Linked DNA regions of Homo sapiens. The protein of the gene in region 3 interacts with the protein of the main gene of each other region in a pairwise test. Each region holds a gene or a part of one and is shown on either strand. Other genes may lie near its edges.

Evidence for each region. The genes of interacting proteins can lie anywhere in the genome.
Region 1: the proteins of FOXD4L1 (region 3) and BAG3 interact in binary tests that used the Homo sapiens proteins (3 or more experiments, as listed by UniProt).
Region 2: the proteins of FOXD4L1 (region 3) and EXOSC8 interact in binary tests that used the Homo sapiens proteins (3 or more experiments, as listed by UniProt).
Region 4: the proteins of FOXD4L1 (region 3) and BOLL interact in binary tests that used the Homo sapiens proteins (3 or more experiments, as listed by UniProt).

What each region holds. Positions count from the first base shown.
Region 1 is NC_000010.11:119,671,880-119,675,379, reverse strand, and holds part of BAG3 (BAG family molecular chaperone regulator 3), read right to left. Parts: intron 3,126-3,500; coding exon 2,724-3,125; intron 1-2,723. UniProt on the Homo sapiens protein: Co-chaperone and adapter protein that connects different classes of molecular chaperones including heat shock proteins 70 (HSP70s), e.g. HSPA1A/HSP70 or HSPA8/HSC70, and small heat shock proteins (sHSPs), e.g. HSPB8.
Region 2 is NC_000013.11:37,006,950-37,010,114, reverse strand, and holds the end of EXOSC8 (exosome complex component RRP43), read right to left. Parts: intron 3,141-3,165; coding exon 3,044-3,140; intron 2,059-3,043; coding exon 1,938-2,058; intron 1,387-1,937; coding exon 1,280-1,386; intron 932-1,279; coding exon 816-931; 3' UTR 501-815; downstream 1-500. Other genes in the region: SUPT20H (transcription factor SPT20 homolog), read left to right, coding at 306-443. UniProt on the Homo sapiens protein: Non-catalytic component of the RNA exosome complex which has 3'->5' exoribonuclease activity and participates in a multitude of cellular RNA processing and degradation events.
Region 3 is NC_000002.12:113,497,205-113,501,464, reverse strand, and holds FOXD4L1 (forkhead box protein D4-like 1), read right to left. Parts: upstream 2,801-4,260; 5' UTR 2,209-2,800; coding exon 982-2,208; 3' UTR 315-981; downstream 1-314.
Region 4 is NC_000002.12:197,782,520-197,786,506, forward strand, and holds the start of BOLL (protein boule-like), read right to left. Parts: upstream 2,801-3,987; 5' UTR 2,537-2,800; exon of another isoform or gene 2,497-2,536; coding exon of another isoform or gene 2,482-2,496; exon of another isoform or gene 2,113-2,481; coding exon of another isoform or gene 2,110-2,112; intron 1-2,109. UniProt on the Homo sapiens protein: Probable RNA-binding protein, which may be required during spermatogenesis. May act by binding to the 3'-UTR of mRNAs and regulating their translation.

The DNA.
Region 1 (3,500 bases), on a different chromosome or scaffold from region 3:
TCCTGTGACTATAAACTACAGCCATATAGATATATAGATTTTTGTGGGGGACAGGGTCTCACTCTGTTGCCCAGGCTGGAGTGCAGCGGGGCTATCACAGCTCAATGCAGCCTCAACCTTCTGGCCTCAAGTGATCCTCTCACCTTAGCTTCATGATTAGTTGCAACTACAGGCACATACCATCATGCCTGGCTAATTTTTCTATTTTTTTGTAGAGACAGGGTTTCACCATGCTGCCCAGGCTGGTCTTGAATTTCTAAGCTCAAGCAATCTGCCCACCTCGGCCTCCCAAAGTGCTAGGATTATAGGTGTGAGCCACCACGCCTAGTAAGCCATATATTTTTTAATGAGCTATGCTCAAAGCAAAAATATCTTGACGCTTTTTGTTTTTGTTTTTGTTTTTGAGACGGAGCCTCGCTCTGTCACCCAGGCTGGAGTGTGCAGTGGTGTGATCTCAGTTCACTGCAACCTCTGCCTCCCAAGTTCAAGCAATCCTCCCACCCCAGCCTCCCGAGTAGCTGGGATTACAGGCGCCCACCAACATGCCTGGTTAACTTTTTTTTTTGTATTTTTAGTAGAGATGGGGTTTCACCATGTTGGCCAGGCTAGTCTTGAACTCCTGACCTTAAGTGATACCCCCGCCTCGGCCTCCCAAAGTGCTAGGATTACAGGATTACAGGCGTGAGCCACTGCGCTTGGCCTTATCTTGGCTCTTATTCATGTAAGTGAATATCTAACACTTCTTTTAAAATCTCACCCTAATTTCATCAACTGGGAAATAACTGGACTATATTATTTCTAAACTATTCCCAGCTTAAAACACTCAATTCCACTATAACGTTCAGTTTGGTGAAATCCTGGAAAGCCTCCCAAAAGGGAACTTTGAATCAGCTCTAAAAGGGAGGTCACCACAAACACGGTTAATGGTAAGAACAGGATGAAATATCATTTCACTGATGATGAGAAACACATGGGAATGATGTGGAGAAAATATCCCTCTCTCTACAAATGGGACCCTCCTAGGATTGCTGAACCCAAGTATGGATCGATGTAGCTGTCTACACTCCAGCAACCTCCTTTTCCATCAAATCTCTTTCGCCAATGCAGACATTCGCAACTTTGGCCCTTACCACTCACAACCCAACCACGCACCCCTCCTAGGTTCTAACAGCAATGGCTGTGTAAGAAGTGACTTTAGAAACACTTTAGAGAGGGTGTTCCACAGCCTGTGTTCTTCAAAACCGTCAAGGCCGTGAAAGCAAAGAAAGGCTGAGGGAAGACTGAAGAGAAGTTGCATCTAAATGCGGTGCTCATGATCCTTGTTTCAGTCCTGGAAGACATCCTGGAAGTGGGGGCAAACTGCTATAAAAAAGATTCAAAAATGTACTGGATAATAATGTTGTAAGAATGTGAAATTTCCTGAATCTGGTAAGTCTACCATGGTTATGAACGAGAATGTCTTCCTCTTAGGAAAATATTTGCTATTCAGGGGAAAAGGGACATGATGTCTGCAATTAATTTTCAAACAGTTAAAACACATCAATAATATACGAGAGAAGAAATGACAAGGCGAATGCAGACATATTGACAAACAGTGAACTGGATGAAGTATATGTGGGGCTCTGTATGATTCACACAACTCTTCTATGAGATTGAAATTATTTCCAAATAAAACAACATTTTAAGATGAGGGTGCTCTATTCCAGGGCCCTGGCCAGTGTGACCATTTGTAATGAAAGAATATCCCACATTTGTTCACGGGGGGCTTTCCTTTTTAAAAACTGTAGCATTCAGCTGCTCAAGTTGCAGCCACAGGGGGCCCAGGGCTGCTGACTGTCCTGCTGCTAAGCTGTGAGCTGCTTAAACTAAATGACATCCTCTTCCAGGAACCTGCACCTTGTGTCTCCACTGGAAGATAACCAGACCCCTGCCTACAACCTTCCCCAGGCCAGCACGGCTTCCAATCCGCCATAGCTGGCTGATGCCTCAGCCAGACCACATGGTACCTGATTACAAAGGGAGGAGGGGGGTTAAGACATGGGCCCTGTGGTCAGGCTCAGCCCTAAGCTGAAGAGATAAAATGAACACTTCTGAAATGCCCCGAATAATGACATGTTGAACTCATACAAGTTGGGAGTTCTCATTAAGGGACTCATATGAGGCATCATGAGATGAGAAGGATGAGTAGGCTTCATGGAGGAGACAAGACTGGCTCGTCCCTCAGAGGACAGGGAGAACCTATACTGTGCGGGCATTTCAGGGAGCGGGTTCAGCATGGGCAAAGGCACAGGGGTGGGAATGAGCAGAATGGGCCTGCAGAGTGGAGTGGGTAACTGAGTGGAAGGTGACACACTGCCTACACCCAAGGTGAGGCTGTGGCTGCGGTGTGGATGGGGGTGTGAAGAGCCCTGAAAGGGTGTGGTGGACACTAAGGAAGCTGGTCCCAGGTATGTAAGTTCTGCCAAGCTGTTTCGTCTGCTCTAAGTCAGCCGCAATGCACAATGATCAGCCCAGCAAAAGCTGCAGAGTGCGGAGGGTTCACAGCCTGAGCAACTGTCCTGCATTTCTGTTAATACCTAGCAATTTCTCGAATCTCACTTGCCTGTAGGTACACGCATGTTAAATAGGCAGGGATGAAGGGGGAACCCAGGGCACCCACAGAGCTCCTGCACCCCTGGAGACATACCACCATAACCAGTCTGCTGACGACTAACTTCCCGTACCTGAGGCCTGTCGACCACGGTGTGCACACGGATGGGCGAGGGGGAGTGGAGTGGCGTGCTGCTCCTGGCTGGTGAGCCCTCCCGGCTCGATGCACCCTGGACAGATGACCTGAACGGGGATGCCGCCCGCAGGGGCCGGGGCTCCCAGTCATCCCCCTGGATCTTGTGGTACACAGGCTGGTGGGTCTGGTACTCCCCCTGCTGCGCTGGGTAGTGCGTCTTCTGGGCTTGGTGGAAGGAGGGCTGGGCTGCTGGCCGGGTAACGTTCTGCTCGTGTATCACCGGAATGGAGATGTACCCCCGCGGGAGCTGGTGACTGCCCAGGCTGCTCCTGCCGGAGGAAGGCAGGCTGGCCGAGGAGGATGAGGATGAGCAGTCAGAGGCAGCTGGAGACTGGGACCGCTGCAAGAGACACAGGGTAGAGGGCATGACCCCACAAATGACTCCCCTGGCTTGGCATCCTGACCACGCCTTCTGCTGTGCACCTCCTCAGGGCAATCCATATTGTAAGACCTCCTATCTGTAATTTTCAATTTTCAAAATGTGCGGTTAAGACTGAGAGCTCTGGGGCTGGGCGCGGTGGCTCACACCTGTAATCCCAGCACTTTGGGAGGCCTAGGTGAGTGGACCACCTGAGGTCAGGAGTTCAAGAGCAGCCTGGCCAACATGGTGAAACCCCATCTCTACCAAAAATACAAAAATTAGCTGGGTGTGGCGGCGCATGCCTGTAGTGCCAGCTACTCAGGAGGCTGAGGCAGGGGAATTGCTTGAACCTAG
Region 2 (3,165 bases), on a different chromosome or scaffold from region 3:
TTGCTATAAACCATCATTATACAACAAAATGGTAACTGAAGTTGCTGAGTTACTACAATATAGACTGGCAGGGCAAAGTAACAAATAATTTTGAAGTTTGCCAAGAATCATTTTTAAAGCCCTTAGCAGGCTTCTGTGCCACTGGTGCTGTTTGACTGTGCATTGTCTCAATGTGGTATAGTCCCTTTTTGTTATCTTGGTGCTTTCTCCCTTTTTCAGTTGTGTTGTTTCGTCACTCAGGAAAAGCACCTTTCTACACCTGCCTGCATTTAACATAACTCGATTTTTTTCCCTCCCTTTTGCAGCAGTTGCGATTCTTGCAGCATCAAATGGCTATGGCAGCAGCAGCAGCACAAACAGCTCAGCTACATCATCATCGGCATACAGGCAGCCAGTCAAAAAGTAAAATGAAGAGAGGCACGCCAACCACTCCAAAATTTTGAGTCTTGCATTACTTTTTGTTCCTTTTTTAAAAACACAAGAGCACTGAATCAAAAGAATTGAGTTTCTACTTTTTGTTTTTTTTAATGTGTCAGTATTTTACATTGCTAGATGTACAAACTTTATACAGAAGCACAACCTTATCATTTTTAAATAAAAACAGGGAAATGGTTTAACAAACTAGGGTTGGTTTGCCTAAGTCATTGCTTTTTAAAAATGGTTTCACTATACATAATATATATGGAAGTGACCTAAGAAATAATAGAAACATCTTTCAGAAGAATGTAGTTTGATATTTATTTAGTATAAAACGTTTGTGCACAGTGTTAACAAATACAATTTTTACAAATCTGTTTTGAAAATGTGGTGGCTGTTTATTTGGGTTTCATACTCTTAATTACTTCATCCATCAGTTTTTTAACTTCTTTGTGTCTTGTAACTGCTCGGCTCATACAGTCCTGAAGTTTAGCTCCAGTTAGCCCACTTCCACCTGAAAAATTATTTTGCCAATACTTTTAATCTCAGTTATCATTCCTTTTCAAAAAACATTAATGTCATGTCAAATTATAAAACAAAAAAATTGGATAATGTAAATCAGGGTACAGTCTCAAGATCTACAAGTTAGTTTCACAAGACCTCCAAGTGATTCTAATGTATGTCTTAAGTTTAAGAACCACTGACATATACCATTAAGATGGAAGAACATTTTAGGTAGCTAAGAAACTATACTAAAATTAGGTAAATAAAATATCCCATATTCTATTTGGCCCTCCCTAATTTAAGGCTCACACTGAGTTTTCATCTACATATGTTTAGGACTGAAGTGGCGGGAACATGCCTGGTTTGTGAAGACAACAGAGTTTGCCTTCCTCATCCATTACTATTGTTAAGGTTCCTGTTGCCAGATGTTCCTCCTCTCCAGTAGGGTCAACTATAAGCAAAGTGCTATAAAAAGAAAAAAATATAAGTTATCAATCCATGGAACAAATTTTACTTTAAAATACTAAACATACTATCAGCCTCCCAAGTAGCTGGAATTAACAGGCACACGCCATCACACCCAGCTAATTTTTGTGTTTTTAGTAGAGACAGGGTTTCAACATGTTGGCCAGGCTGGTCTTGAATTCTTGACCTCAGGTGATCCCCTGCCTCAGCCTCCCAAAGTGCTGGGATTACAGGCATGAGCCACCATGCCCGGCCCTGCTCTTCTATTTCTGAACGTGCTAAAATCCTTGGAAAATATTGAAGATAGCTTCAGATAAATCTTATAGTGAAAGAATTGGAAATTAACATTACACAGGTATAAGTAAACCAAGGAACAGGTAATAATTGTGCAGTGACTAGAAATAATTGTGCAGGGACAAGTAGAAACTCAAGTGTCCAGGGAAAACTAGGATGTAGGGTCACCATAGCACTTCCTAAAGAGTTAGAATGCTGAACATCAATTACCCTAATCTTAAATATAGAAAATTTTAAAGTAAGTTTGATTAACTTACTCATCAAACACAGCAAAGGAAGTTGCAACTGGATGAGTTCTAATATTCAAATAACTTTTCTTCTTTAAATTAACTTCTGCTAAAGCAGTTTCTTCATTTATAGTAACTTCAGGCAACTGTACTAAGAAAAGGCAAATTTGTAAAGTAAGTAAGTCTCTAAGAAACAAATGATTTCTAAGCTTTTTTTTTTTTAATTCACCTTTCCCTCTATTTAACTTGCCCAGAACATTTCTTTTTAAAAAGCACCTTACAGCCACTAAGGTAAATATAGAGGATATACATTGCTTTTCACAACATCTGACATTCCTACCTAGTGCTTATTGCATAATTTTTTTTTAAGTTTAAGAAGTCAATGATTTTTTTTTAAATTTATATCTGCCAGGTACTGTTTTAAGCATTTTCATATTTTCATTGTATTCACCTAATCAATACTCTTACAAAGTAAGTACTATTATCCCTATTTTATTATAGATAAGGAAACTTCAGCACAGAGTGAGAGAGCCAGGAATCTACTTTAACCAGTCTATTATAATATTTTGCTGACTTCATTTTCTACCTCCAATTCACTTAACCACTCTACTATAATATTGCTGTGCTAACTTTATATTCCACCTCCAATTATTTGTTCCTACCAATTCATCATTCATCAATGATAGGGAATATGCACAAGTTATTGAAATCTGTAACTAATCAGTCAACCTAGACTCCTTGCTAAGAAACTTCCCTATTACTATGGCCTCACAGTAAAAACAACAGAATCCATTCTACTTCTTTTGGCAATATCACATAAAGAACTATGAGGATACTGGCAGATCTTCACCAATCACCTAGCCAGAAGTTACAACTCTTGTCTCCTTCTCCCACCAATATTAACACTATTTTGGAAAGGACTGAAGTCCTAACTTAAGTAGATGGGTACAGTCAAAGCAGCACTCTAAAGAGCATTCAGTTAGAGAATATACAACTATCAACTATATTTGGAAAGTCATGTCAGCATTACATTCATTAATTTGGAAGCATACGAAAGCAAATGTACATTAAAAGTTTCACAAAACAACATTCTAACCCATGAGTGGGAATATTGCCTTTTTTGTAAGGCTGCTTACCATTTTTTAAAGCCGCTAGCAAAGCAAATGTGCAGGCATCCAAAATGTTTCCATCGTAGTCGAGGCAAATGAGATCACAGTATAGAACCCAGACAAGCTAAAATAGAATTAAACACAAAAGG
Region 3 (4,260 bases):
TTCCAAATTGATCTCAAACGGTTTTCCAGCTTGTTGGGGGGTGAGGAAAAATAAATGGAGAATATATTTACATGCCCTCCTATTCTTTTCTTTTAGAAGTCTCATAAATAGTAAATTTCCTATTTTAAAAGCCAGGACATTTTCAACCTCAAATATTTGGAATTTTTAAAGGCCATATTAAAATGGATTACTTCTGCTATCTATAATAAATATGAATTGTGAAAATAAATTGTTTGAGGGAAAATAATGTAGGTTTTAAAAAGTTCCATTTAGAAAGGGAAGAATGAGACGTAATAGAAAATAACGATGTAGTGTAGTGACTTAGCATTTTATTTCGTCTATATAACTAGGCTTAATTTTAACACCTTAATTTTAACATTAAAGATGGCACGTCAGACACACAGATAAGAAATCAATGTTCTGAAATTAATATCCTACTTACATTAAACATCCCTATCAGGAAGACACAGAGAGTAGAAGCATTTTGCACTAGACTTAGGAATAACACTTCCAGTTCCAAGGAAGTGAAGAAGGGGGAACATGTTTGGCATCGGAGGCTGTGTTTTTGTTTGCTTGCTTGTTTTTCTTCTAATGCCAGAACAAAATACCCCACTCACGTTCATAGTACCCCAGGAAATGTGCAAATCCGGAAAGCCACAGAAGCCACAGCCGAAGGCAAGAAAAGATGACTTGACGCCCTGCGAAGGTTACGTTCAGGTGGTTTTTAGAGGAACGTAATCCAGCTGTTTCTTTCTAACCATTTTGCAGGGAACAGAAGTTCGTGTTTGCTCTCCAGCAGGATTCAGATGCACACGCCCAGTATGGGCCGCGCAAGGTGGAGTGAGCAGCTGCGGATCGCTCCCCACTCCCACCTGGCTCTAGGAGGGCCCTGCGGACTTGGCCAGGGAACTGGGCGTGGGCGATACTAAAAAAACTGGTGAGGTCCCCTCTCCGCCCAAAGGGGCAGCCAGCGATGTCAGCCTAGAGCCCTCTGCCACCGCCTGATACCGCAGCAGCGCCGACGCGGCCGACAGGTGCCCGCCCAGCACCGCGCCCTTGGTGGGAGCGCAGCCGTTGGCGCAGTCCTCCTCCTGATGCTGCTGCTGTTGCTGCAAAATTGTCCGACAGGCTTGACGGTCGCTGGAGCAGGGGGCAGTAGCTCCACGCGGTCGGGGACAAACTCTGCGCAGCCCCTGTACCCGCTCCCCTGACCCCTTGCATGATACTCTCAATGCTGAAAGAGATGCATCCGCCTCCCGGTGGCGACGCCAGACCCTTGCCCTCCTCCCAAGGCTGAGGACCAAGTGAGGGCTGCAGCACGGGAAGGGTGCCGGGGGTCGCCAGGTCCGCGCCTTCTGCTTTCTTCGGTGCCCCGGCATAGGCGGGGGCCGAGAGCAGTAGGTAGCGAGGAGGATGCGGGTGCAGCAGAGCGTAAGGGCGTCTCCCGGGGGCGGTGTTGGGGTAGGCCCCCGGGACTGGCTGCGGCAGGGCAGGGGCCCCAAGCAGAGGGCCTGGGCGGGGGTTGTGCAGGGCGGCGTGTGCAGCAGGTAGAGGGAAGGGGTGGGGCAGGTGGGCTCCCGGGGTCAGTTGGTGGCGCTTGAAACGCTTCCTACGCCGGAGAAAGCTGCCATTGTCGAACATGTCCTGGGAGGCGGGGTCCAGGCTCCAGTAGGTGCCCTTGCCTGGGTGGCCCGGCTCGCGGGGGATCTTGACGAAGCAGTCGTTCAGCGAGAGGTTGTGGCGGATGCTGTTCTGCCAGGCGGGGAACTTGCGGCGGTAGTAGGGGAAGCGGCCACTAATGAAGGCGCAGATGCCGCTGAGCGTGAGGCGCTTGTGCGGGCTTTGCAGGATGGCCATGGTGATGAGCGCGATGTACGAGTAGGGGGGCTTTGCCGGCTGCCGGGCATCTTCAGAGGCCGCCGCAGACCTTGGCGGTGCCCTGAACTCGGTGCCAAACTCTGAGGGGTCGCTCGGGCCGCCGCCCTCGATGTGCTCTCGGGGAAGCGCAACCCCGCCCCACCGGGCCACCTGCAGCCCCGGCTGGAGCGACTGCTCTAGGAACTTCTGGCTCGCCTCCTCCTCCTCGTCTTCCACCTCGTCTTCATCTTCCTCCTCTCCCAGGACATCGATTTTACCGTCTTCCCCATCGGAGTCCCGGAGGCTGCGCTGCGGTGTGGAGCGAGGGCGCTCAGCTCTTGGCAGGTTCATGGCGGAGCAGGTGCTTCAGTCGCAGGGGATGTGGCGGCCGATCACCTGGCCCGGGGCGGGCTGAGCTGGAAGCCTGGGATGAATGTTGCAAGAAGCAGGAACGCTAGTGGTTACCCTTTGGGATGTTTTCCTCTGCTTGTTTCTACTCCTTTGCAACAACGTCCGGCAAAGATGCCTTTGCCTTTTATAAAAGCTTCTTCAAGACCATGTGTGGTGGACTCCCCCCTTTATAACCCTTCTTCCCCTACCTCGGAGCGGTGCCACTTCCTCCTAACGTAGTCCAGGGATGATGGTCTTCTGGGCAAACACCGTCCGGAGAAAAGCCCAGCCCCCTCCTCCTCGCACCCACCTGCCACCAAGGAAGATGCTCTACTCATCCGGTGCAGCCAGACAAGTAGGCAAGCCTTTGCACGGGTTCTGTTAAGGCGCATTTAAACCCGCGCAAATAAAAGCGAGGTAGGAAAGTAGGATACTCAACATTCTACGACCATCTCGACATGCAGCCTTCCCTCCTGGAGAAAAGAAATGGTGGGGCAGGAGGCTGAAATGTACACGGTTGTTTGTAAAGGAATGTGTAACCGTAAAAGTATGTTTTTGTGTTTCACAGCTGGTAATCACCCATTTTCATTGGTAGAGTCTGTCCTTACCCAGAATGGTGAGCTGAATTATATTTAAGGTTCTGACAATATTCCCAGGCTTCAGGGGGGTGTTGCTTTGCTCCTTCTACCTTCCTTCCCACCTCCCCAAGATGCTCTCCCCTGACTCAAATTTTCAGAAAAGGTTCAAATGTCCCAGCACTAAATTGTGTAAGTTTATTCAGGGAAGGCAGGAGAGCTCACACGGAGTCCTCTGTCCCCTTGTAGCAATGGTTCTCCAATTTCTTTGAATATTTAACCACAGAAATACATTTTATATCACAATCTTACACATACAGACATAATACATAACTAAGATGGCTTTCACGAAACAATATACTTACACTATAGTGATCACTGATATTTCCTTTTAAAAAAAAATGGCCATAACCAACTAAATTGATTTCACACATACCAGTATGGGCCCAGTTTGAAAAATCCTGTTCTTACAAAGTGGCCCCACATACAAGAAATGCACCCACTCTATAAGGGCTTCTCTCTCTCCCTTTCCTCCTTCCTTTCTTCATCCTTTATAACCAATTCATTTTTAGAGACAGGGTCTATGTTGCACAGGCTGGCTTTGAATTCCTGGGCTCAAGTGATCCTCCCGCCTCAGCCTCCTGAGTAGGTGGGACTACAGGCGTGCCACTATGCCTGGCTCTGGCTCTTCATTCTTTTTTTCCTTTTTTTTTTTTTTTTTTTTTTTGAGACGTTGTCGCTCTGTCGCCCAGGCTGGAGTGCAGTGACACAATCTCGGACCACTGCAAGCTCCGCCTCCCGGGTTCACGCCATTCTCCCGCCTCAGCCTCCCGAGTAGCTGGGACCACAGGCGCCCGCCACTACGCCCGGCTAATTTTTTTGTATTTTTAGTAGAGACGGGGTTTCACCGTGTTAGCCAGGATGGTCTCGATGTCCTGACCTCATGATCCGCTTGCCTCAGCCTCCCAAAGTGCTGGGATTACAGGCGTGAGCCACCGCGCCCGGCCTCTTCATTCTTTCAGAAATGTCAACATTAAGTGCTTTTACTGTAATAAAACTTGGGACTTCAATGAGGCAAGAAGGGGCTGCAGTGTTGCCTTTAAATCAGTGGGTCCTCATTCACTGTCTGCACTGGGGAGGGGCAATATGACAGCACAACTGTTCATCTCACTCGCTCCACATCCTTAGAAGTAACACGATTTTTAGATTGGCTTCATGAAAATTAGCTCAGAGACTAAAGTAGCACTACAGAGGAATAAAAAAAATATTTGTTATATAAATAAGGATCTTATTAAAATACTAAGTAAGATACTATGCCACGGTATATATTCATAATTTAAAACCCACCTACTTGGGAAAACTTTGAGGTGCCATCTAATAAAAATGCAGCATGAAAGAATATTATGCCCTTGATAGTCACATAGTGTCTATAATTATG
Region 4 (3,987 bases), about 84 Mb from region 3:
ATTACTACCATTTCCTGACGCTATACATTCCAGAGTAAAGCCCTACTTCCTTAAACCCTCTCTAGAAATTGCTCAACAGAAGCCTATATCCTGTAAGTTCTAACACCTTCTGATTGAGAGGCCCCATGGTTTATGTTTTCCCTTGTTTGAACAATTAACAGACCCAACTTTACTAAATGACGCATGTGTTCCTGGTGGTCTTTAACTAATGGTCATCGACAAGTTAATAAACTCTAACATTCACATTCACCATTTTCAGCCTGAAAGTCAAAATTTTAAATGCACTTGTCAATTTGAAGATTGGACTGATTTTGTTAAAAAATTATATACTTGTAGCTCATAAATGTTTATTCCAAAGAATTAGCTCAGTACATATCCACATGTTCACAATTCTAAGTTAGAGGACATAATTTAAATTTTAATAAATATATATAAATGTATAAGCCTTTGCAGAATGGTAAGATAATAGACTTTTAAGGTATAACTGAAAAAAAACCCAAGACTTGAGAATCACATTGAAGAGAAACCAATTCAAGAACTGGTGAATTATTTTCCATCTGGAAACACTAAACACACTTCTGAGACAAACCCCATAATATCCTAAAGACAAACCCCATAATATCCTAAATGTGTGCTTCAAAAAACTTGAAGTAAACTGGGTGTTGTGGCTTGTGCCTGTAATCCCAGCTGCTTGGGAGGCTGAGGCAGGAGGATTGCTTGAGATCAGGAGTTCGAGACCAGCCTGGGCAACAAAGAAAGACCCCATCTCAAAAAGAAAGAAAAAGAAAATAACAAAAGCTTGAAGTTCATAATTCCAATTCTCTGAGAAACAAACTCATGAAAATGAATCTCCAGCTCAGGTAATAAAGTTGTTCTTTTTCAAATTTGTTCTGCTCTTTCTTCTCTGGCCAATACAATCACAATCCCTAAATTAATCTTTGCAAGATGTACAGAGAAATGACTAGGGCAGGAGTGGCAATTGGGCTATAGGCTGGACCTTATGGGCTCTCTTCCCCATCCAGCCTTAAGGAAGTATGTACTCCTAATAAGGGAATATGTAAATACTTCTTTTAAAACACAGAAAAGCCACCACATTTAATAATTACTATGTTGTAGTTTCCAATGAAAGAAACTGGGAATCTAATCTTAACAGCTTTCTCTCTGGGCACTTGGAGGTTATTTGTGACTTCAGTCACTTCGCTCAGTAGGATATAATGCTCAGAATGGGTAATTCTGGAATGCTTAGTATTTTTCAACTATGGATTTTGTATTGCTAGAGATAATATAACAGCTCTAGTAGATGTAATCTTGTCTTTCTGCCCATTTGTTTACAGTGTCAAAATTACCTATTTGCTAAATTTAAAAAATCATTCTTCATGAAATTCTCTTATTGAAAATAAGATGTACTAATATGTTCGCAAGTTTAAGTAAAAGACAAACCCCATTATATTTCATTGAGAGAAGGATGAAATGAACGGAAGTAAACAGTGCTTTATTTCCAATCTCGAGAAACTAAAGGATACTCCCTGAGAAAAGAAAAACAACCTTTCACACTCAATTCACTTCATTCTCCTCCACTCTCTAAGGCTCTATTGTGGGCTCGCTCTGCTTAAGTTTTCTCCCTCATCATTTTCTAACATACGATATAGTTTACTTAGTATGTTTATTATCTGTCTCCACTATTATGTAATGCACCAGGGCAGAAGTTTTGCTTTTTTCATGGCAGCATCTAAAGTACTGACAGTACACAGCAGGTGCTCAATAAATATCTGTTGAATGACTAAAAGTGAATCATTTCTTCAGGAGAGACCTGCTCATGATATGCCAAATAGGCTGAAGGCTAAAGAATACAGTATAACAGCAGTCTAATACATATATATATATATATATATATATATATATATATATATATATATATATATATATATATTTGAGACAGTCTTGCTCTGTCGCCAGGCTGGAGTGCAGTGGCGTGATTTCGGCTCACTGCAACCTCCGCCTCCCTGGTTCAAGAGATTCTCCTGCCTCAGCCTCCTGAGTAGCTGAGACTACAGGTGCGCACCACCACGCCCAGCTAATTTTTTTGTATTAGTAGAGATGGGTTTTCACCATTTTGGCCAGGATGGTCTCGATCTCCTGACCTCGTGATCCGCCCACCTTGGCCTCCCAAAGTGCTGGGATTACAGGCGGGAGCCATCGCGCCAGGCCTACAAAATATTTTAATGTTAGCAATAGCAAGGCTCAGGTGGAGGCAACATCTAAGTTCATTATAAACAATTAGCGATGCATTGAGTTAAACAACAAAGAAAGCCTGAAATTCCACTAGCAATAATTCCGCATGTGTTACGGAAACACCTAGATGGGGACTGTTGCCGGGTTTGAAGGCTCCTCCGTTTGCTAAAACTTCCAGCACTAGAGAGTTTATTAAACTACTCCTCCAAAGCAATGTGCCCTCACTGGCCCCTCCCCTTGAGAATCAACCTCGAGATCTAGCATCTATTTTGCAAACGAAGACAGCAGGAACGGGCGGGCTAACCGTCGCAGTCACTGCCTCGGCGCTCCTCCCCCTCCAAGGCCAGCAAGTTGCGGCACTGGGGGAAATGGCCGCGGCGACAACTTCCTCGAGTTCTCTCGGGTCATCGTGAACTTGGGCACCGAAACGAGGATCCACCCCCTCCCCACCAAAGTGCGGGAGGGAAAAGAAGGCTAGCCAGCGAGAAATTTTGCCCCACAAATCCGCCAGCAGCAGTGGCGGGAAGCCTCAACGGCAGCGACCCCGCCGCTGGCCTCGTGCGCAGCTGGTCCCCACCCTCGCGCGGCGCTCCCTGATTGGCTGCTGGCGGCGGGACGGGGCGGGGCGGGATGGCACGTTGCCGCTGCGCCTCGGGCCTGTGCGGGCAGTCCTCCTTCACTTCCCCAAGTCCACCCTGACTGGCTTGGGTGCACAGCCAGGGCTAGAGTGTCCGGGTCCCGCCTGGGCCACAGGCGGGCCCTGCCAGGTCTCTCAGACCTTCCGGTCCTCGCTGACCAGTCGGGGAGTGGAGGCGTCGACCGCCCTGGCAACTCCTCGCCTTGGGCGGCTGGGTCGAGTTCGGCCGCAGGGAGCGTCAAAGACGCTGCCTAGCCCAATTTCGGCGGGAAAGCGGTTTACCTGCTCGGACTTCGCTGGGTGCCTGGCAGCCCGCCGCCTCCCGAAACATCCACGCCTGAGGTCCCCTGGCCCGTCTACACCCAGTCCAGGCCCCGTGGCGGCGCCTTTCTGACCCCCATGACACAGCCAGACGAGGTCTGCGGGCGGGTGGCTCCTGGCAGCGGTCGATGGGGCACCTGGCCACGTTTCTTCCCAACCAGATAGCGAGCGTTTGGGGCCTTCACCTCGCCCCTCCAAGCCCTCAGGGACAGGCTCCACGCTGCTCCTTCTCCCCGCTATCCCGCGCCCTGGGGCCCTGATCGCCGTACTCACCGGCCCGGACTCGGTTTCCATCTTCCTCTCTGCTCTTCAGAGACGCGGGGTAGGGAAAAGAAGCCTAAAGTTTGAAACCACCTTCACGCCAAGGCAGCAGCGCTGCTTGTCCTGCCTGGGACTCTCGCCCCCTGGCGGCGAGGGTGGCTGTGGCAGCTGCAGGGAAGCAGGCTCGGACCCCGGCCCTGAACCTGCCACCTGGCGGGTGGGGAGAAGCGGACTGCGTCGCCTCGGGTGGCAGGTGGCGGTGCGGGCGGGCGCTGCAAGCCGGAGAGGGGCGCGGGAGGGCGAGTTTCGGCTGTGGCCCTGGGACTCCGAGCCGGGGCGTCTCAGGGGCAGAGCGCACGGCACAGCGGGGCGGGCGTGGGGCGTGCGGAGCGAGGGCTCGGTTCTGGGACCCCTCTCGCCTTCTCTCAGACGGCTGGGGAGGAGAGAGCGAGCGGTCAGGCAAAGCTCCATGCACGCCTTCCCCTCTCCTCCACTTGAGAAGAGTCGGCCTCTGGGACTGGTGGGTTTCGAGAGGT